Homo sapiens: one gene and its partner. The protein of the gene in region 1 interacts with the protein of each later gene in a biochemical or structural test. Each region holds a gene or a part of one and is shown in the gene's direction. Other genes may lie near its edges. The genes, in order: ADD2 and RPH3A.

Evidence for each region.
Region 2: the proteins of ADD2 (region 1) and RPH3A form a complex in vitro, tested with the Homo sapiens proteins (one study listed by BioGRID).

The regions. Positions count from the first base shown.
Region 1 is NC_000002.12:70,700,728-70,711,343, reverse strand, and holds part of ADD2 (beta-adducin), read left to right. Parts: intron 1-4,901; coding exon of another isoform or gene 4,902-4,935; coding exon 4,936-5,118; intron 5,119-6,884; coding exon 6,885-7,023; intron 7,024-10,616. UniProt on the Homo sapiens protein: Membrane-cytoskeleton-associated protein that promotes the assembly of the spectrin-actin network. Binds to the erythrocyte membrane receptor SLC2A1/GLUT1 and may therefore provide a link between the spectrin cytoskeleton to the plasma membrane.
Region 2 is NC_000012.12:112,784,593-112,795,873, forward strand, and holds the start of RPH3A (rabphilin-3A), read left to right. Parts: upstream 1-7,155; 5' UTR 7,156-7,420; intron 7,421-7,550; 5' UTR 7,551-7,671; intron 7,672-11,281. UniProt on the Homo sapiens protein: Plays an essential role in docking and fusion steps of regulated exocytosis.

The DNA.
Region 1 (10,616 bases):
ATAGGTCACCTTATTAGTATAAACTCAGGTTCAGTTGAAAGAGGCTCATGATGAATAACAAAAGACATTCCTACTGTCTTTTGGGCATTTTAGGAATTCCAAAGGTTTTTGAAACTCTGTGCCAGGAACCAGGGACAAAGATGACATATAGTCTTTCTTATATCATACCTGGCTCATCACACGCTGGTCTCCTCTGATCTTCAGCATCCTGGTGAGCTTCTTTTTTGTGATATCGAGGTTGACCTGTTCCCATTATCTGGTTGGGAAACTGGGCATTCTCAGTCTTTTTCTGGATGTTCTTCTTTTTGTCGATGTAGCTCAAGATTGAATTAGTTTTTTAGACTAAAACACATAATTACAGTTATTTAGTGTGCACCTGTTTATAATTGAATCACAAGCCTCTCATTACTTGAATTCCTAATGCTAAGATGACTTAAGCCCCTCAATCACACATGATAAGAGTAAATAGTTAATAGCACTTGCTATATACCAAGCCCTGTTTTAAATACTCCACATACATTAACTTCACTAATCCTCACAAGTACGTTTCAAGGTAGTTAATTTACTACAGTCCCCATTTTATATGTGGGGAAACGGAGGCACAGAGCAGTTAACTAGCTCAAGATTACACAGATAATAAGTGGCACAGCTGAGATTTGAACCCAGGTAGTCTTGTTCCAGAGTCTGTGCTTTTAATCGCTAAGCCATTCTGCACATAACTTTTTGGAGACAGAAGGAAGGAGCACAAGAGGATGCCTGTGATTCACAAAGCCAAAGGGTTGGCTCAGGCCCCTGCTGTGATGGTGATGGAGTCAGGGCTTCCATGTCCTACACCACCCCCATCGGAGTACCTCTGGAGCAACCCTCTGGGGCAGGGCTCTAAGAAGGGAAGGCAGGCCCTGGGGCATAGCGGTGTGAGCTCCTGTCCATCAGGCCCAGAGCTTCTTGGTTCTTTGTACTTCAGGGAGGGCAGAGCTACTTCACAGCCTTCACAGATCAGTTACTGGGGAATGCAACCACTCCATGGGGAAGGGGAGAGGGTCAACCTTTTCCTGCCTGGAAGGCTCAGTACAAGGCTGTGCTGGCCAAAATGATCCCAGTCCCAGAGAAGCTGAGAGTTCAGTTGGCTTAGAGCCTGGAGTCCTAGGGAGCACAGGGGGCTCACATGCCTATGCTCACATCCAGTGTACTCACTGGGGAAGGGGAGTTGCTTGTTGCTGTTTTAAAAATAATATAAAAGGTTCAGGGCTTTGAAAGTGCCAAAGAGAATTAATTTACTATGATGAGTCACTAAACAGAGAAGGAGTGGGGTTCGATGAGGTGATGTCTCTGGAAGAATTTTGTTCTGCCGTGCTGCCTGCCCAGAAGAATCTGAGTGGGGGCCACATGTCTGTGTGGCTCTGATGCAGTTCTATTATGTTTGACTTTGTCATCCCTTCTTATCCTCAAGGTCCAGGGATGAGGTTGGGTGTGAGCATGATAGAGGTGAAATATTCTTAACTAACGCCATGCACGTGGGACTGACTGGAATCCACAAGGCCAATGTGTGTTCTTTGCAGATGTTTCTCTTTTGGCATCTGACTTGTGGGAGAGGCTCTGGGGGAAAGCGGGAAGATCTCTTGCTCCAGGAAACCCAGATCCTCCATGCTTCCGCCTTTATTACACGAATGTATCTGTCTCCAACTCAGATAAATCATAGAGTGTCAGAGCTAGAAGGGACCCCAGAGGTCATTTGGTTCATTTTCTGATTTAGAGCTGGGCAAAGTGAGACCCAGAGAGAGGCAATGACTTGCCCAAGCCCATGCAGCTACTGAGTGACAGATAGGGGCAAGATTGCAGGTCCCTGACTTCTAGTCTAGAGCTCAGTCCACCAGCAACATCCCTGACTCACTCTTTTTCCATTCAGATGAAAGGAAAGGGTCTGGATTTAAATGTTGCCAAGTATGACCACAACCATTCTAGCAGCCTGCCAAATCTGTTTCAAAATCTTTCTTTACAGAATCTTTTTTTTTTTTTTTGGCTCCCACTCCCAGCAGACCCCTTCCCCTACCTCCGACCCTTCATCTCCGTCCCCTATTATCAAATATTTTGTCAACACCGCTGGTAAGTGTGGTGCTGGTTGGGGGAGATCAGGTAAGGGCTTTCATAAGAAGATGACTAACTAGTGGAATGATTAAGATCATAGGTCCTGGTTTGGCAGCTTTGCAGAAGTGGGCCATGGTGGCATTTGGAGCACTCCCACTGCCTGTTAAAAGAAAAATTTTAGATGAATTAAACTTAACAGAGTTTGAGCAAAGCATGATTCAGGAACTTGGGAGCCCTCAGAATCAGAATGGTTTCTGAGTGACTCTGAGGCTGCCACATGATTGGATACATTTATGGACAGAAAAAGGAAAGTGACCTACAGAAAATGGAAGTGAGATACAGAAATGACTGGATTGGTTACAGCTTTGTATTTGCTTTATTGGAATAGTGTTTGAATAGTTGGCTACCTGTGATTGGTGGAAGCTCAGCTGCTGTGGTTGGCTGAGACTCAGCTACTTGTCACAAGAGTAGGTTACAGTCTATTACACATCAAGTTGGGTTACAGTTTATTATACGTGGAAAAGCCCTTAGGCCACACTTAAAATATGTAAGGAGGCAGCTTTAGGCCAAACTTAATGTAACATGTCCCAGGCCAAGTGTATGATAGCAGATGGTGGTTTGAACGAGGGGAGGGGCCTAGACAGCTATGGGACTTGGCCTGTGATGTGAGAGTCAGATTATGTGAGGTTTTGTGCCATCTTATGTCAGACTTGCTAGAAATGGCCAACACCTGGAATGGATGCCTTCCATTACATGTTGCAACCATTAACATCTAAACTATGGATATTTCAACCGAGGCTGCTCACTAGGGATTAGGGAGCTTTTGAAAAATCCTGATGTCCAGGTCATACCTCAGACTAATTATATTAGAATATCTGGCATCAGTACTTTTTAAAGTTCCCAGGTGATGCTATTGTGCACCCAAGGTTGAGAACCACTGCTCTAGGCTGAGGGCTCAGGCCATCAGCTGACCCTTGAGGAACTCTGTCCATGCGCCTTCCCTTGAACGAACTGTTTGCCTTTCCCCTAGAGGAAGAATGCAAACAAGAACAACAGGAAACCATCTGTGTATTCTGGGCTGATGGGATGGCCTTCCACTGTCCTCCAAGCTTATCTATGGCATCATTCTCCCCTCACCCCACCCAGAGAGACTGCAAAGGTAGTGTGTGGAGTTCTGGTAGAATGTGGAAGAAGAGGTTACAGGCAGCTCAGGGACAACAAGAATATGCTCTACTGGACATCAGCAAAGCCTCCTTTGTAATGAGCTTCTGACCAGAATCAAGGGTAGGCTGGGGCCAACAGGACTGCTGGAGCAAGGCCGGAGGGAGCCAGGACTGGCCAGCCACAGGCAAAGGGCAGATCAGGACCTGGGAGGCCAGGAGTCTTCTCCCAAAGAACAAGAGAGCATTCCATCTCCTCATGGAATGGGAGCCCATGGAGGTAAAGCAAGGGAGTGGCAGGTTATGGATGAGAACCCAGGTGTCCTGGTCCCTTGTAATGCTCTTTTATTTGTATCTTCACATATATGTTAAAAAGCTAATTATTGTTCAGCCAAAGTACATGCTGCCTTCTGCTGAGAAGAGAATCAGCCAGCAGGGAGAAGGCCAACGCTCTGTAAGGCCACCCTGGGTGTTGAAGGGGCAGAGCACCGATTTGAAGGCCTTGCAGTGCCGACACAGGAAAGGAGACGGGCTTCGCAAATTCCCACTGCCGGGAAGTGAAGCCCGGAACTGCAGGCTTACTCTTCAGAAGGGCTCCAAGATAGCAACAGAAAACATTTCTTCATTCATCATTCACACATTTTAAAAAGTATTCTTGATTAGAAAAAATCCACAGGTTTCCCCCAGCTTGACTTTCCAGAGGCTGTCGTGGTCCTTGCTCCAGGGAGCAGGTTTACACGCAGCACGTGGGGCTCTGGCAGCCGGGCAGCATGGCACCCTGCAAACCATATTTAGTTGTTGTTTCTCAACATGAGTTGAATGGGATTGGAGAGAAAATAATTTTCCATTAATAAAGTTGCACACCTCTTTTTAAACTTGGAATAAGAATCTGATTCTGCATTAAAACAAGTTTCAGAAAAACAGATTCACCAATAAATTCCTTTCCAGGGGCCAGAGCGAAGTTTAAGTTGTAAAGAAAAGCATTGGGCAAAGCGCTTCCCACGTTTCAGTAGTTCCTGTGCTCTTTTAGTAGTAGTCTTAGTAGGCCCTGTTTAATAGTAGTATTCTTTTGTGAATTTCCCACCATAATTTTTTTTTCTTTTTAGTTCTGTGATACGTGTGCAGGATGTGCAGGTTTGTTACATAGGTAAATGTGTGCCATGGTGGTTTGCTGCGCCTATCAACCCATTACCTAGGTGTTAAGCCCAGCATGCATTAGCTATTTCCACCATAATTTTTGAGGGGCCTTATTAGAGGGTTTCCATTTTAGATGAAGTACTGATTTCCAGTAAGTAGCTTACCACTGCATAGGTGTGCATCACAGAAATGCTCAACAAGGTCTGCAGGTCATGTTTCCATTCGGGGAACTCTCTACTCCAAGCCAAGTGTGACCATTTAAGGGCTGGCTAGTTGGGGAAGGGAGTGGACACCTGAACCCATGTTTTTACTTAGTCTCATGGCACAGCAGCGCCCCTATAGATGGGTATATGGGGCCGCTGCTGGCGTCCTGCCCTCCTCCCCAGGCTCTGCCTCTACCATCCTAGGAACAGCCGTACCCCACTGAGAATCCAACTGAACCTAGCCCTGTGCTCTGAGAAACGTGTACCCCGATGGGGAGCACCAACCTGACCGCATACCCTCTCCCCTTCTCTGTAGAGTTCCAGGAGCGAATTGCAAACCCACCGGGAAAATGAGCGAAGAGACGGTCCCCGAGGCTGCCTCGCCGCCGCCCCCGCAGGGGCAGCCTTACTTTGACCGCTTCTCAGAGGACGACCCCGAGTACATGCGCCTTCGCAACCGGGCGGCGGACCTGCGGCAGGACTTCAACCTGATGGAGCAGAAGAAGCGCGTCACCATGATCCTGCAGAGTCCCGTGAGTGGGGCTGACCCGGGCGGGAGAGGGCGCAGGGGGCGCTGGCTCTTCAGGACGTGTACCCACCCGAAAGATGAGTAACTCCTCTTTCCCTTGCTCAGGGTCAGTAGAAATGTAAGCCCACTGAGCAAGACGGATCTGGTCACCTGGGGCCTTGACACTCTCCCTTGTAACTGGTGGATGGCAGAACCTGGCTTGTGTGTGGCAGTTTGGCTTGGTGCGGGGGGAGGTGGGACGGAGACAGGAGTCCCCCTCAGTTTCCTGTGCCCCTTCGGAGCCTCAGTTCCCAGTCTTCCCTCCTCACCAAAAGCTATGACAGTGAACGGACAAATCCATGTAAACTAGAGACCAGCAGGGTGCCAGGAGGAGGGCTTGGGGCTCCCTTTACTGAACACCACAAAGTAAGAACTTTCTGTCGGGACAAATGAAGCTTTGACATGAATGGGATGGGGCTGAGGAGAGCCTGGAAGCCCCAGGAGGTGGGCAGAGTGGAGGGCTCAGCCGGGCTGTGGGATGGGGTGTGGGAAGGGAAGGCAAGTCGGGATCACTCACATCCCTCCTTACTTGGGGCCAGTTGGTTCCTGCCTGGCATGGACACAGCTCCTCCTTGAGGCAGGTAGTGCCTTGAGAAGGCCGAAGGGTGGGCCCTGTGGACCACTGAAGGCAGAGGGAGATCACTGTGGTGGAGGCAAGAGGGGTCTGACTGAGGAAGAGCTTGGGGGGCCTCAGGAATCAGCCCATGATCCTAAGGATCGGGAAGCCCAGGGACAGAGTTGGCATCTCCAATTGCTTGCCAGGATGGGCTCGAGATGGGAGCCGCTCTGCCTTGGCCTTCTGGGCTCCAGAGAGCCAGGGCCTGTGCAGGGGCTGTGTGAGACCCTGGCTGGGAGCCATGGTGCATACTCAGGCCACACAGAGCAGCTCCAGGGAATGGGCCGAGGTCCAATATCTGTGCCCAGATATTGTGTTGGGGAGCTGGGAGGAATATGGCAGATGCTGAAAGCATTGGGGTGAAGAGCCTCTGGGAAAACCCCCAGAGTGTGACTAGGAGGGGTGGCAAGGGGGTTAGGAGAGGCGGCAGAGTTAGCACCAGCCCAGATTTCAGGGCTCAGGCAGTAAATAGGGGTTGGAGGAGGGCCTGCTTCCTTCTTCCCTTTTACAGGTTGGCCAACACACCTAAGTGGCCCCCCATTTCCTCCTGAGTGTTTTCTCCTGCCACCTGGTGGGCAGGATTCCTTGCTTATGGCTTCATGGTCTGAAAAGCCAGGCTTAGAGTTGGACATCAGGAGTGGAAGTGACCTCAGAGGTCATCAAATCTTCCTGTTCTTCCTCCTACCCTTTCATTAAGCACATGAGGAAACTGAAGCCCGAAAGAATCACAGGCATCGCTAATGGAGAGGGATGGTGGCTCTCTCCATTCAGTTCTGCCTAAAAAAATGTCCTTCATTACTAAAGTGAAGTCCTACCATGTCTGATGGTGGGGAGGGGTCTTGGCCCTCATTTAGACACAGAAAGGACCTGGAATCTGGATTACTGCCCACAGGGCAAGGGAACACAAGATCCATTCCCAGCATTTCTTTGTTGCTTCCCATACAGCAATTCCTGAGGTCCTAGTGGAACTGCTCAGTGTCCCCTGTAGCTGGGGACCCTGAGCATGGCCCTGACCTAGCTGACCCAGGGGCAAGGGGTGGGCACTTGGAAGAGCTCATTGTTGGGCAGCTGTGTGAGAGGCTGTGGGGGGACAAGCACCTCGGGGCCTGCTTCAGTCTTTCAGGGAGGAGCTGGAAGGCCTCATCCAGGAGCAGATGAAGAAGGGGAACAACTCCTCCAACATCTGGGCCCTGCGACAGATCGCGGACTTCATGGCCAGCACCTCCCACGCAGTCTTCCCGACATCTTCCATGAGTATGTGGTGTCTGGGGAGCTGCCAGGAGCAGAGGTGGAGGGGAGGGTGGGGTGGGGAAGAGAGGGAGGAGCAGCAAGAAGCATCTGGTTGCCAGGCTATGGAGTAAGCAGCCCATTGTGTTATCAGGCCTTGGGGAGCTCAGCAGCAGCCAGAGAGGTACCTGGCTCTGCTTCTGATGTTGCTGCAAATTAAACGTCCACAGAAAAATTACCCCAATGCCAGGAATAAGAGGGTGGAGGTGACTTCAGTGGACGGGAAGAGACCACTGAAGCCTGTGTTTCCATGCCCCACTAGACAGGCCAACCTGACTCCACAGATGAGGGCTGAGAGGAGCCAGCCAGGGCTATGCAGGAAGCCACCCTCCTGGGCTGTTATGCTCTGCCCATAACGTTTAAAACACAAGCATCAAAAAATAACTCCCCCTCAATAAGATTATTACAGGATTATGGCTGAAAACTGTGAAAATAACCAAGAAAGGGAAGCAGAAATCATTCTACTGTGTTCTTAAAGCCCTCATATTACTATTCTTAATATTTTGGTGAACATATATCCTTCCAGTCCTTTTTTTCTTAACATATATAGATTATGCAAACACAAATGTAATCACATAAAATATGGTTCTATAATATAATTTTTGGTGGATACATGCTATTTAATAAATTTCCCATTGTTGGACTTTTAGGTTATTTCCAACTTTTTCTGTTAGGAACAATGCAATAAACATCCTTGTAAATAAACCTGAGATTATATCCGTGATTATTTTCTTAAGATAAATTACTAGTAGAATTGCTGAATTGAAGTACATGCATGCATGTTTTAAAGACTTTAATGCAGAATGGCAGATTACATCCTTTCTCCAAATGGATCCAATTTACGTTCCCAACAGTAATGCGGTAGAGTGCCCATTTCCTCTACCCTGGTCCATAGTGTATACTACCATTTGTTTCATCCTCCTGATTCAGTAGGTGACAAATAATACTTTATTTGTGTTTTAATGTGCATTTGTTTGACTACTGATGAGGTTGGATATATTAATGTATTTTCACATACATATTGGACATGATTTTCTTCCTTTCTCTCTCTCTTTCTCTTTCTCTCTTTCTCTTTCTTTCGTTTTCTTTTCTTCTTCCTTTCCTTTCCTTTTTCTTTTCTTTCTTTTCTTTTCTTCTTCCTTTCCTTTTTCTTTTCTTTCCTTTCTTTCACGCAGAATCTCACTCTGTTGCCCAGGCTAGAGTGTAGTGGTGCAATCTCAGCCCACTGCAACCTTCCAGGCTCAAGCAATCCTCCCACTTCAGCCTGCCAAGTAGCTGGGACCACGGGCACGCACCACATGCCTGGCTAATTTTTGTATTTTTTGTGGAGACAGGGTTTCACCATGTTGCCCAGGCTGGTTTGGCACTTCTGGGTTCAAGTGATCCACCCACCCCGGTCTCCCAAAGTGTTAGCATTACAGACGTGAGCCACCGTGCCCGCCCCTGACTTTCTTTTTATAGTAAATTGCCTTTTTACATCCTTTGCCTATTTTCCTATTAGTGTATTATTTTCTTATAGATTTTTACATTTTTATAAAGTAAAGCTGTTTCTCTATTATCTGTCAAATATATTGCTTTTTTTTTTTCCAGTTTCTCCTTTGTCTTTTAGTTTTGTCCATGGCATTTTTTTTGTCTTGTAGAATTCTTTAGTTTCTGTGTAGCGGAAACCATTGTAATTTTCCTTTGTGTGTTCTGCTTTTGATTGCATGCTTAGAAATACCTTTCCCATGTTTCATCATCTGATGGAACAAATACCCTTAATTATGCATTTGTCAATTTTCCTCAACTGTTTGTACAAGTTTATTCTTTACAATAACTTTAGGCCAGGCACAATGGTTCATGCCTGTAATCCCAGCACTTTGGGAGGCCAAAGCAGGTGGATCACCTGAGGTCAGGAGTTTGAGACCAGCCCGGCCAACATGGTGACACCCTGTCTCTACTAAAAATATAAAAATTAGCCAGGCATGGTGTTGCATGCCTGTAATCCCAGCTACTTGGGAGGCTGAGGTGGGAGAATTGTTTGAACCCTAGAGGTGGAGGTTGCAGTGAGCTGAGATTGCACCACTGCACTCCAGTCTGAGTGACAGAGCAAGATTCCATCTCAAAAAAGCAAAAACAAAAATCAAACTTTAGAATTATTTTATCAAGTCCCCCCATTGACCTTAAAAATTCCTTTTGGGATTTTGATTGGGATTACATTAAACGAATAAATTGATTTGGTGAAGAATTTATAAATTTATAATTTTATATTAGAATGTAAGCTCTGTAGGGGAAATTTGTAAGTTTGGTCCACTGCTATATCCTTTGATTTAGAATGTATCTGGCACATAGTAGGTACTTAAAGATATTTACATGAGTGAATTGTAAATCTTTTCAGAAATGAGATATGTCTTTTATTTATTTAAGTCTTCTTTCATATCCATCAGAGAAGTTTAGTAATTATTTTCATGTAGTTCTTACTAATTTCTTATGAAGTTTACTCTGAAATTTTTAAATAACTTTGTTATTTTAAGTGAATCTTTATCCATTCTATTTTCTTTCTGGTTATAGTTCTCATTTAAGATAAATTGTTAGATATATATATACATATAAGTGTGTGTGTGCATGTGTGTATACACTAGCCCCTTATTGAACTCTTATTTAAATTTTAATATCATCTCAGTTAATTCTTTTGGGTATTGTATATACAAAAATCACATAATCTGCAAATCATGATCATTTTGCTTCCTTCATTTCAACATTTACCCATTGGTTTATTTTTCCAGTTTTCTCATTGCATCTGTTAGAACTTTCAGAACAATGTTTAATAATAGATTAATTATCCTTGTCTTATTTCTGACTTTAATGGAAGTTGTTTTACCACAAGAGTTTGAGACAATTATTTTTTATCGTGTTGAGGAAATATCTTTTTATTCTAGTTCACTATGAGTTTTTCTCAGGAATGGATGTTGAATGTCATAAAATACATTTTGGCCATTTATTGGTTTTTTTTTCCCTTGAACTATTGAGGTGATGAGTTTTAGTAACAGATTTCTGAGTATTGAACTCCTTTTTCATTACTGAAATAAATCATTCTTGGTCTTGATGCATTCTTTTAAAAATACCCTTCTGGATTTGATTTTCCAGAATTTTATTAAAGATTTTTGCATTCATATTCACACATGAGATTGGTTAGCAGTTCACTTTTTGGGCAGTCTTTACCTAGTATTGATACCATGACTGTAATTTCATAACATGAATCAAGGTGATTTCTCTCTCTTTTTTACCCTGATATAGTTTAAATAAGATAGGAAATCTCTGTTCCTTGAGATTTATTATTCACTTAGAATGTCATCTAGATCTGGAATATTTTTAGGGATTTTTGATGTTTTTGTCCTCAGTTTCATCTGGGGTTTTAAAATTTATTTTGCTGCTTCTTGGTTAAATTTTCGTCATATATTTTGTGTAAAATAAACCATTTTATGGAGTTTTTCAAAATTATGAGTCATTTACAATATTATTTTTATCATTCAAATTTCCTGCTAAAGTAGATGAGATAACATCCCATTCTCATTCCTGGT
Region 2 (11,281 bases), on another chromosome or scaffold:
ATTCGACATTGACCAGGCATCAGATTTGTTCTGGGCCGTGAGAACTCAGAAATACACAAGACTGAGCTGTGTTCTTGGAATGTCCAGTCTGATGGGGGAGCCAGTTATAATGTAGGGTGGACACAGGGAGAAGGTGAGGTTCTGTTGTAGGAGTTCAGATGAGGAAAATGCAGTCAGCCTTCAATAAGTGTCAGCTGTTTATTTGTTACAGGCTAGAAACAGATTCAGATTCTGGAGAGGACTTGGGAGACGAAAGGTTCTACATGCTTACTTTATTCTTTTGGCCTAAGATTGTGTTTTGGTACTCACTGGCTTAACTGGGAAGCTGGCCTTAAGAGATACAGCTGTGGCTGGGTGTGGTGGCTCACGCCTATAATCCCAGCACTTTGGGAGGCAGAGGCGGGTGGATCACCTGAGGTCGGGAGTTCGAGACCAACCTGACCAACATGGAGAAACCCCGTCTCTACTAAAAATACAAAATTAGTCAGGCATGGTGGTGCATGCCTCTAATCCCAGCTACTTGGGAGGCTGAGGCAGGAGAATCACTTGAACCCAGGAGGCGGAGTTTGCAGTGAGCCGAGATTGCGCCATTGAACTCCAGCCTGGACAACAAAAGCGAAACTCCCATCTCAAAAAAGAAAAAAAAAAAAAAGATACAGCTGCATGGTGGTTGGCAGAGCATAGTTAGGCAAACCTAGCATACCCAGAGGAATGATTTCAGGACTGACTGATTTTCAGATTTCAGGGCAGATAATGCTATGGAGGTGATGGAAATGACATTAAGTCACTGCTGTAAGTGGGAATATAATAATTTTCTAATGTGCTTTAAAGTAAAAATGTAACATCTAAACACTGAAAAAATAAACATCCTTAGAATACCTAACTTCATCTTTTGGATCTCAGCACAATGTGTATCACTCATTGGAAGATACCTCTCTTCCATGATAAATAATAATCACAATGGCCATGATAATGAATAAAGATGACAGACATGGGGCTGCCTATGTGCCGGGCTCTGCTCTAAGTGCTTTAACGTATGTTAGCTAATGTGATCCTAACAACAACCATATAAGGAAGTGCTATCATTTGCTTTGCAGACAGAGAACCTGAGGCAAAGGGAGGTTTAGTAACTTCCTCAAGGTCACACAGTTTGCATGTGGTAGAGTCAGATTTGAACACTGGCAGCCTAGCTCTAGAACCTGGCCTCTTAACAATTTCATTATGCCGTCTCTGCTGTTGCTGTCCTTTTCCTCTTACTTATGGTCACTTTGGGCTGGACGTTTTCACTGCATTCCTTGAGGATAGGAGTCTGGATAAGCACACAGTAGAAACTTAGTAAATGGTAGCTGTTATTCATCATTTAGAGTATACGAAACTCATTGCTATTCATTAGCTCAGTGAAACATCCTGGCTGCTTCAGGAGATGAGCGGGGAAGGTATGGTGGTCCCATTTTATAGCTGAGGAGACTGAGGTTCGGAGCATGCCAGTGACATGCCAAGGTCCCAAACTGGGAAGTAGGGAGCTGAAATCAAACTCCAAGTATCAGAGAAGGCAAGTCCAAGTTCCCTTCCCCTGGCAGAGCCTTGCCTGGTAACGTGGAATTGACTGATTAATAAATAAAACTTGTTGACTTGTCTTGAAAGCTTGCTTCGCCAAGTCCTACTGTGTCTTTTCCTAAGGAGGTTAGTGGGCTTCCCCACGACTGCCCTTTTCCTTGTGGGAAGGGATTTGTCAGTGCACATAGGCCGATCTCAGGGACCCAGCAATCCTTTCTCTCTCTGTCTCGTGTTCTTTCTCTTTCTCTTGCACGCCAATCTCTCTGTTTCGTTTACTTGTTCTATCTTTGACCGATTCCCTGTGATGAGTTGTGCTCCTGGAAAGCTGCCCTGTGACATTTCTTCCCTTTTGTGTCCCTGACAGTAGCATTTCCCTGGAGGCTCTTAAAGGAGAAGGAGGAGGGAGTGAGGAAGGCATGGACGCCCTAGCAGTGTCATCCAGCGACAAAGCCCAGTGTTCAGGCTAAAGCTTTGAGCATGTTTCCTTTCTCTTGTAGGGCACACACATGGTATTGTTCAGAACAGGTTGTAGTATGATTGAAGCACTGGGTTCTTTGTCTAAGAGGGAGCTCAGTCATGATTCCTAAAGCCGATTTGCTATGGGCTTCTTAATGTAGGGTCCCCTGGCAGACTTGCTATATTGGTTTCCTATGCTGCTGTAACAAATAACCACAAACTCTGTGGCTGAAGACAACATAGATTAATTATCTTACAGTCCTGGAGGTCAGAATTCCTTTAACCAAGGTGTCAGCAGTGGGGTTGTGTTCCTTCTGGAGGCTCTCAGGGAGACTCTTTTCCTCACCTTTTCCATTTTCTAGAGCCTGCCCACATTCCTTACCTGGTAGCTTCTTCCACCATCTTCAAGACCAGTAACAAAGCATCTTCATACCTCTCCCTACCTCTCTTTCTCTCTCTCCCCCTATACTTCCATCCACACCTTTCCTCTCTGACTCTGGCCCTCCAGCCTCCCTCCTATAAGGACCCTTGTGATTACATTGGATTCACCCAAATAGCCCAGGATAATCTCCCCACCTCAAGATCCTCAACTTCATCACACTTGCAAAGTCCCACTTGCCACTTAAGGTAATCTATTAACCCCTTTTGGGGATGAAAATGTGGACATCTTTTGGGGCCATTATTTTGCCTACCACACTTGCTAAGTGAAATGGGCTATCTCAGTGCCCATTTCCTTGGGAGACAGAAAAGCACAGAGGACCTTGAGATAAACTGTTCAGATTCACACCCCATTCTCCCCCTCTTCCTGGCTGTGTTATCTTGGGCAAGTCACTTGAGCTCTCCATGTCTGATTTCCTCATCTTGAAAATGGGTAAATAGCACAACACAACCTCCTTTCACTGTTGTCAGTCATGAATAGTGCTGGGGAGATAAAGCATGGCACCTGGTAAATAGTAAGCACCTGCCCCCTGCAAAAGGAGAGATGATTAGGAATTAGGAATGCCAGATAGCATAATGATCATAAATTCACAGGGTCTTGGTTCAAATTCCAGTCTCACCACTTATGAACTCAATGGCCTCAGGCTAGTTGCTTTAGGAGTCTCAGTTTCATAGAACAGAAATGAAACCATTATCATCCTGAAATGGGATTGTTGGGAGGATGAGATGATGCCGCTGCACATATACAAATTGTGCAGGAGGTAGTGGGTAGCATTTGTTGCTGTAGCTATTACTACCTTCATCATTTCCCATCCTCTTTGGGGTGATGGAAAGTCTTACTGGGCTGCCTCTGCTCCATAAAACAAGGGTAGAGCAAGGCAGCTTGCTGAATTGCGGCCTGAGGAATCTTCGCAATGTTCTATCATTGAATGAAGCCTCGAGAGAGTCAGACCCTGGCCGGGCTCAGCCTTGAGAAGTCTGGGTTTTGAGGTGTCTCCCTGCTGCAGTGCCACAGGCTGGTGGAGTTTACAGCAGCAGCTGGTTCTTTGAACAAAGGGTTCTCCAGAAGCACCCGGGACAGAAGAGGGGTTTGGCAGTGGTGACCAGGGAGGTGGGCAGGATGGGGCAAGGTCCCCTGACAAGACAAGGCTAGTTCCTAGATGGCATGGTGACCAGAGAGGGTGGAGAGCTCAGGTTTCAACCATATTATTATTTTTTAATTTTGGTGCAAAATCCTTGTTTCAATGAAGGCTTGGGCAGATGCCCAGTATGCAAAACAGTTAAAAGCACCACTAACTGTTCTAGTTGAAACCAGAGTGGAGGGTCAGTTGAGGCCTCTTTTCATTTCCACAGGGGCCTCTAGGGGGCCTGGTTTAGGAAAAACTGACAGGGTCATGAAAACACAGGCTTTGGAGTCAGACAGACCTGAGATTTGCATCCCTGCCTCTGCTGCTCCCTGGTTGTGTGAGTTTGGGGGCTTCACATCATCTGTCTGCTTCTTGTCTGCAAATGGGGCAGTAATAGCACCCACTTCAGGTAGCTGTGAAGTGTGGGGATAATCACTGTAAAGTGCTTAGTACAATGCGTGACACATGGCAAGTGTCTAGGTATGCAGCAGGTGGTAGCTATTGTCATTCCCTAAGGGAGAGCTGAATTCATGAGAGGCCCTCCCAGAATACATGCCTAATGGCTGGGGAAGCTGTGAGAAATTCTTTGGGATTGGAAGCCAAGAGGCCTGGGAACTACTTGGGTTCTGATTCCACCACCAGCATCCTAAATGACTTTCATTTCTCCCTGGGCTTCTTGAATCACTCTTCAAATGTTTATTGAGGCAGCCAGGTGTGGTGGCTCACACCTGTAATCCCAGCACTTTGGGAGGTCGACGTGGGCAGGTCGCTTGAGGTCAGGAGTTCGAGACCAGCCTGACCAACATGGCGAAACCCCGTCTCTACTAAAAATACAAAAATTAGCCAGGCGTGGGGCGCATACCTGTAGTCCCAGCTATTTGCATGGTTGAGGCATGAGAACGTCTTGAATCCAGGAGGTGGAGGTTGCGGTTAGGCGAGATCTCACCACTGCACTCCAGCCTGTGTGACAGAGCAAGACTCTGTCTCAAATAAAACAAACGATATTGTTTATTGAGGGTTTCCTATGTGCCTGGGACTGCCCTAGGCAATAGACCACAGGTCCTGGCATCTGAAAGGCTTGCATTCTATACTCAACTCTGCTACTTCCTAGCTCTTTGATTATGGACAAGTCAATTCTCGTCTCTGGTCCCGAGTTTCTCCATCTGTAAATTGAGGACACTGAATTTATGTCACAGGATCATCCCAGAAAATATTCGATGAAAATTTTCCCCTCAAACTTGTAGAATGCATTTGAAATGAACTCTGAGAGACATCCTGGAGCATGTTCTTTGGAATCATACGACACTGAGTTTGAATGCTGTGTCTGTAACTTACTGTGAAGCCTTGAGCAAGGAATTTTATTTCTTGAGTCTAAGTTTTCTCATTTGCAAGATGGGAATAATACTAGTGTCCTGAAAGGGTCATGGTGAGGACTTCAGAAGATGATACATGTAAAGTTCCTAGCAGAAGAGCTGGCACATAGTAGGTTTTCAATAGCAGCCATCATTGCCACCACCACCACCACCACCATAATCATCACCATCAACATCATCAGCATAATCATTGTCAATCAACACCATCACTATAATCATCACTATGATTACCATCATGATGACAATTACTACCACCACCACCACCACCACCACTGAGGCAGGTGGTTCATTTGAGGCGAGGAGTTCAAGACCAGCTGGGGCAATATAGTGAGACCCATCTCTGCAAAAAAAAAAAAAAAAAAAAAATTAGCAGGGTATATTCGTGTGCACCTTGAGTCCTAGCTACTGGACAGGCTGGGGTGGGAGGATCACTTAAGCCCAGGAGTTCAAGGTTTCAGTGAGCTATGATTGCACCACTGCGCTCCAGCTTGGGTGACAGAGTGAGACACTGTCTTTTTCTTTTTTTTTTTGAGATGGAGTTTCACTCTCGTTGCCCAGGTTGGAGTGTAATGGTGCAACCTCGGCTCACTGCAGCCTCTGCCTTCCAGGTTCATGTGATTCTCCTGCCTCCACCTCCCGAGTAGCTGGGATTACAGGTGCACACCACCATGCCCAGCTATTTTTTTGTATTTTTAGTAGAGATGGGGTTTCACCATGTTGGCCAGGCTGATCTCGAACTCCTGACCTTAGGTAATCCACCTGCCTCGGCCTCCCAAAGTGCTGGGATTACAGGCATGAGCCACCGCGCCTGGCAGAGACACTGTCTTTAAAAAATTGTTTTTTAAATGAGCTCTAAATGTTCTCATTTTAACTCCTGGGTCTCATGGGGAGAAGTAAGTGACAAATGTAGTAGTTAACCCTGGGCCATCTGGATGGGAAGCTTTAGATATGAGTCTCCAATAGAGAGAGTTCTCCTTCACTTTGCAGAGAAGTTCTAAGCAGATCTTGGTCTGTTTGAGATTTCCTGGCCTTTTTCCAATTTGAGCCCTTTCCCAAAGTTAGGAGGAATAGGACTCTTGAGATATGGAGCACTGGGAGCCATGGGAATCCATTCATCTTTATATATTTCCCCTTTTGATACTTTTATTTCATTGTCCATATAGTGAATTCACTTCAGAAAGCCAGTCTGGATCTTTCGGGGAAGGCTCTTTGGCCAAGGCTCAATGGTCTGATTTAGACCTAAAATTTCCCTTCATTCTACTCAAACCACCTGCTGAAGGGTGAGGTTGGCACATGCCATCCTAGCTGGGCTGTCAATTCCTTTATCACTCTGTCCAAACATTTGTGTTTTAGGACAGGTTATGGACCATGAAATCATGGCAGTTCACAGCTTGGGTATTCTTATTGTTGCATTTTAACCTCTTGCTTCCTATCTTTAGGAAAAATAAGGTCATTATGTTATCATTTTCACAGATGGGACTTGGAAACATTAAATGACTTTTCCAGAGTTGTAAGGGGGCTGGATCTGACTTCCAGAAAACCATCAAGTGCTTATTCAACTAAGCCACCCTGCCCCTTAGAAATTTCCATTTCTTAAGCCTCAGCTTTTCTGCTCTGAATTCTGAGAAACTCCAGGTACAGGTCAAAAATCTGCAGCAATGGGGGTGAGGACAGGTCATCTGGGCGAAACTTTGAGGGGCAAAACCACTTAGGGAGCCCCCCACACCGGTGCCAAGCTCTTGTCTGAGCAGAGAGGAGCAATGCAGGACTGGGGGCGTGTGGGAGACAGGGGCTGTGAAGTTATAGTTCCTTTGCTCTGAGAGTGAGCGACAGTATTAGAAAAAGTGTGTGGTAGGTAAGCTGTCACTGACTAGACTGTGTGATGTCGAGAAGTCCCGTCCCCCACCCCTCCGGACTCCCCCCTTCTCTGCTTTAACCATCCAATTACTTAACTTCTCTGCCTAGGGGTTCGCTTCCCACCCATCCCCTCCTCCAAGGCATCTTAGCGCTGTCCGTGGTGCTGACCGCCAATCCCCTGGTTGCCGTTTCGACCAGCTGGGATCTCTGGTGCGCCCAACCTCCCCTCCCGGCCTCCCACCTTTCTTTCTCCAGGCACCGCACACATAAATCACGGGTGGGAGGCAGGCTTGGTTCCCGCTTGGTTCCCCCTGCACTGGGAAGCTGCCGCCCCGCTTCCCTTGCTCACACAGGGCTTTGCAGTAGTGGTGGCAGCCGCGGCAGAAACTGGCTCTGGGGAAGCAATTGATTCGTCTACTGCCAGCAGCCCGGAGTTGCCTACGCGGACTGGAAAGGAAGGGAGAAGGGAGAGAGAGAGAGAGAGAGAGAGAGAGAGAGAGAGAGACTCACAGAGCTAAAACCTTCATCCATGTGGAGGACAGTCTGAGGGAGCCACTGTCCCTTGTCCACTGACTCACTGGCTGGTCCGAGTTTTCTCCGCTTCTGGCAGTGGTATTTCTTTTTGTCTTGGTCCTGCATGATTTAGGGGTAGTTGATGTGTCTGTGTGTCTACGTGTGTGCACTGGTGCTTTGATTTTATTTTGGGAAGAGTAGGAGAGTCAAATGAACAATTTTCTTTCAGGCACCTCCGCTGAGCTTTTAAACCAAGTCATTGGGACTTAGCGTCTTTCTACCCGGCAGGGAAGGGAGGAGTTGGCAAGAATTTGGCTCACCCATTCCCCCTGCAAGCCTCCAGCGTCGCGGTAAGTGATATTCTCCCGGGTTGTGCAGATGGGCTAGGGGTGTTGGAATCCCAATTGTGATGTGTGTTCATGAGCTGGTGGGGTAAAGGGTAGTTGGGAGGAGAAGGGTATCGAGGAACGACTATGCTTATTTGCCTACATCCTGCAGTGTTTTATCACCTAAGCGGCATCCCAAAGCCAAATGAGATTTTGGCTTAGTGCCCAGGGAGGGGGTAAAATGTGCTCATGTTGTAGGCAATGCGATCAAGATTGTGGCTTCTGCCCAATTTGCCCTCTCCTTTGCAGCAGAAGCTGGTGAAAGTAGCCGGCAGTTCTCTGAGAGAGTTAACCCTTCGTGGGGCTGGCTAGTCTAGCATGGAGGGACTCTGGGTACTCTGACTTAGCAAGTGAGTGCTTATCCCTGGAGGGGAGGGGGTCACCTGAGACTGGAAGGGTAACTTTTGCCTGGGCACACTGGGTAAGATTTGCACAGGACAGAGCTTAGATTGTACCCTCTTCTAGGAACAGCTGAGTAATTTAATTGTGGTGATTTTTGCGAGGTTGGCTGTTCACGCTTTCCTGAGATGGAAGACCTGGGAGCCAGGAAAGGGCCACACTATGCCTGGGATGAGTGGTCAGGCTGGCCAGAAGGGAGCAGCCACTGCCTGCAGAGGAGATGATGTTTTATTTTCACAGGTGGCGTAACCTGTAAGTGATTGTATGGGGGAGCGTCCTGGCACTAGCTTGGGAGATTCTATCCTTGAGTTCATCTCAGAAGGAAGGAGGGGAACAAAGCTTGTTCAAATTCTGGGGAAAGATTCCAGGCTTCAGCTTCAGTTTTGTTCCAGGGTAGACCGTCCCCCTGCACTAGTTTCTTTTTCCAAGATCCTGATGGGGAAAGGCTGCACCAACCTGTTAGTGAGTGGGAAGTGGAAGTACCTTGAAATTGAATCCAAAAGCTCACATTTAATTTTGAAATGCTTTTGATGCTAATCTGCTACCCATCAAAAGGGGATTTCACTTTGCTTTCTGCTTTGATTACATCTACTTTTCTGGAAATGAATGCCCTTGTTTTTAGCATTTTTGCTATTATCTCAGGGGCCACCTCAGTGTTCTGCACCCCCAAGGATTTCCTTTTTAGATTCTTGCTCTTGGAGGTGGGAGGAATAAAACAACAGTCAGAGATTGGCAAGCCTGAAATATAAGCAGGGTTCACTCATTCTTTTTTTCTCTAGCCCCATAGCTAAGAAGAGATGCTGAAATCCCACAGCATGTGCCTGCTCAGGCAGGACATATGAGGCAGAAGAGGAGGGTTGTCTGGTGGTTAGTGTCAAAGATTTGGTTCTCAAAATCCCTAACTTCTCTTCCTAGCTTCTCTTGCTGGGTGACCTTGAGGAGGAAGTTGCCTTAGATTCCTCACTGGGAAGACTTGAGTGTGAATAATGAATGTGTGGAAATTTTGTTCAAAAAAAGAACCACATATCTGGCTATGGGTGATATTTAAAGTATTGAAATTTGGTACTAATCGATCAGAATGGCTAGGGTCCTGGAATAGGGCATCTTAGGGGGCCCCTGCTGTACTGAGTGTTAATCTTTTAATTGCTGGATTATGGAGAGGTTTGGGGGGATCTTAGGGGGCTATCAAGAGAGCCACGAGGCCTCAGGGCAGCATCCCCATTTAATTTTAATATTTATATTTTATTTTAATATTTTTAACAACTGGTTTAGCCATGCAGTACAGGCCAGCCCAGCTGGGATAGCTAATACTTGGGTGTCCAGATGTGGACACTTCCCAAATATCTCTCCACTGGGTCACTTCCTTAGGGATGGCCAAGATCCAAGAGGCCGCCCTCCCTCCTCCCCCATCACATTTGAAGTGGTGCATTGTGGTGCACCAGGGAAAGGGAAAGAGAAGCTTCTGGAAAGAGCCTTGGACTTGGGTCAGGAGACCTGGGTTCCAGTCCCAGCTGTCTCCCCTTTCTGGGCCTCAGCTTCCCCATCTATGCAATGGGGCAGTCTGTCTGGGTGGCCCTAAGTCCCCTTCAAGTTCTGGGGTTCTCTGACTATGAGATAGGTATGTGTGTGAGTGTGAGTGACTGCACATGCCCACATTTCTAGGAAGGGTTAGCACTGTGCTTGAGAATTTATCCTGTGTCGGGGAGAGGCCCTGTTTGGGGTGATTGGGGATAGGGGAGTCTCTTGTGAGAACTTTGCTAGGTTTCTAGAATCCTGAGCTCAGCTGGAAAGGGGTCTGCTTTATTTATGGCCTCAGATGCACAGAGATGTAGATTTTGCAGCACTTGAAGGCTCCAAAGAGACTCTTCTCAGGAGTAGCAGCAAGGACTCCTTGGAGAGGCTCTGCTCTGAAAAGATGCATATACACACAAACACACAACATCAGGGGGTTAGTGGATCCTCAATAATGCCCATGTGAGCACCCCCCCAAGTTCAGGACCTCTGATTTAGTCTAACCCTTTCCAGGGGGGCCCAGAGAGGAAAAACAATTTGCCCAAGACCACACAGTAAGTTATGGCAGCAACATATAAACCCACCATTATGAAGACCAAGGCATCATCCCCTCACTCCTGGCTCCAGCAGCCCCTACTCCCCCAGTCCAGCCTGAGGTACAGAGGAAGGATGTTCAGCAGTGTCTCTCCAGCCCGTGCTGGTAATCAGGAAGCTTAGCCATGGAGACAAATGTGGACATTTCCTTTCTTGTTGGCAGGAGAGAGGCAGCAGACAGAGATTCTGTGATTCCACAGGGGTAGCCTGGAAAGTCAGTGCCCCCAGCCTACTCTGCCTTTCTCCTTCTTATTGCTCCGTACACAGACTGGCTGCTTTGTCTGAAGATGTGCATTTGGTTGGGGTGGCTGCTCTTGGGCTTTCTTTGTAGGCTGTGACATTATGCTTTAACTCTTTCCCTCTCTGTGAATGGGTCCTACAGAGTTTATGGCTTTCCAATAAAAACCACCATGACACATGGACCTGTCTTCTGCCCTTCACCCTCATTCAGTGGGGAGCTGATTGTAATTGCAGATAAGCCAGGAATTGATGTGAAGCCAATGAGAAGAAAACAGTGTGGTTTATTTCTGTTAAGAGCTGTGGCCATAATCTGGGATAAAAATAATTCTGGGACCCAGTCATGGTGGGCTGAAGCTGATGATTTTAAATAATTCAGCTGCCACCCAGGATGGAGAGCCTTGATGTGCTGAAAGAGTGAAGGAGGTACTGCAGAAATAGCCCCCTTCTTTCTGTGCCTCACACCTATCTACCTTCTTAACCAGCCAGGGGCTGCAGTGTGGGCTCTGGGGGCGGTCAGATCTTAGTTCTAATTTTGACTCTGGCATTTCCTTGCTGTGTGACTTCAGACAAGGCCCTTAATCTCTCTGAGCCTCAGTTTCTTCAATTAGGTGTATTAGGGTAGCATGATATAGGGATTAAGAGGATGGGCTCTGGAAATAAATTTCTTAGGGTTAGATCTTGATCCTAGCACTTTCTGATTGTGTCACTTCACCTCTCTGGACCTCAATTTTCCCATCTACAAAATGGGAATAAGAATGCAGTTGTGAGAATTTTAAGAGTTAATGATCACTTTATACTGAGTCTGGCAAGGAGTAAATATCCAACAAAT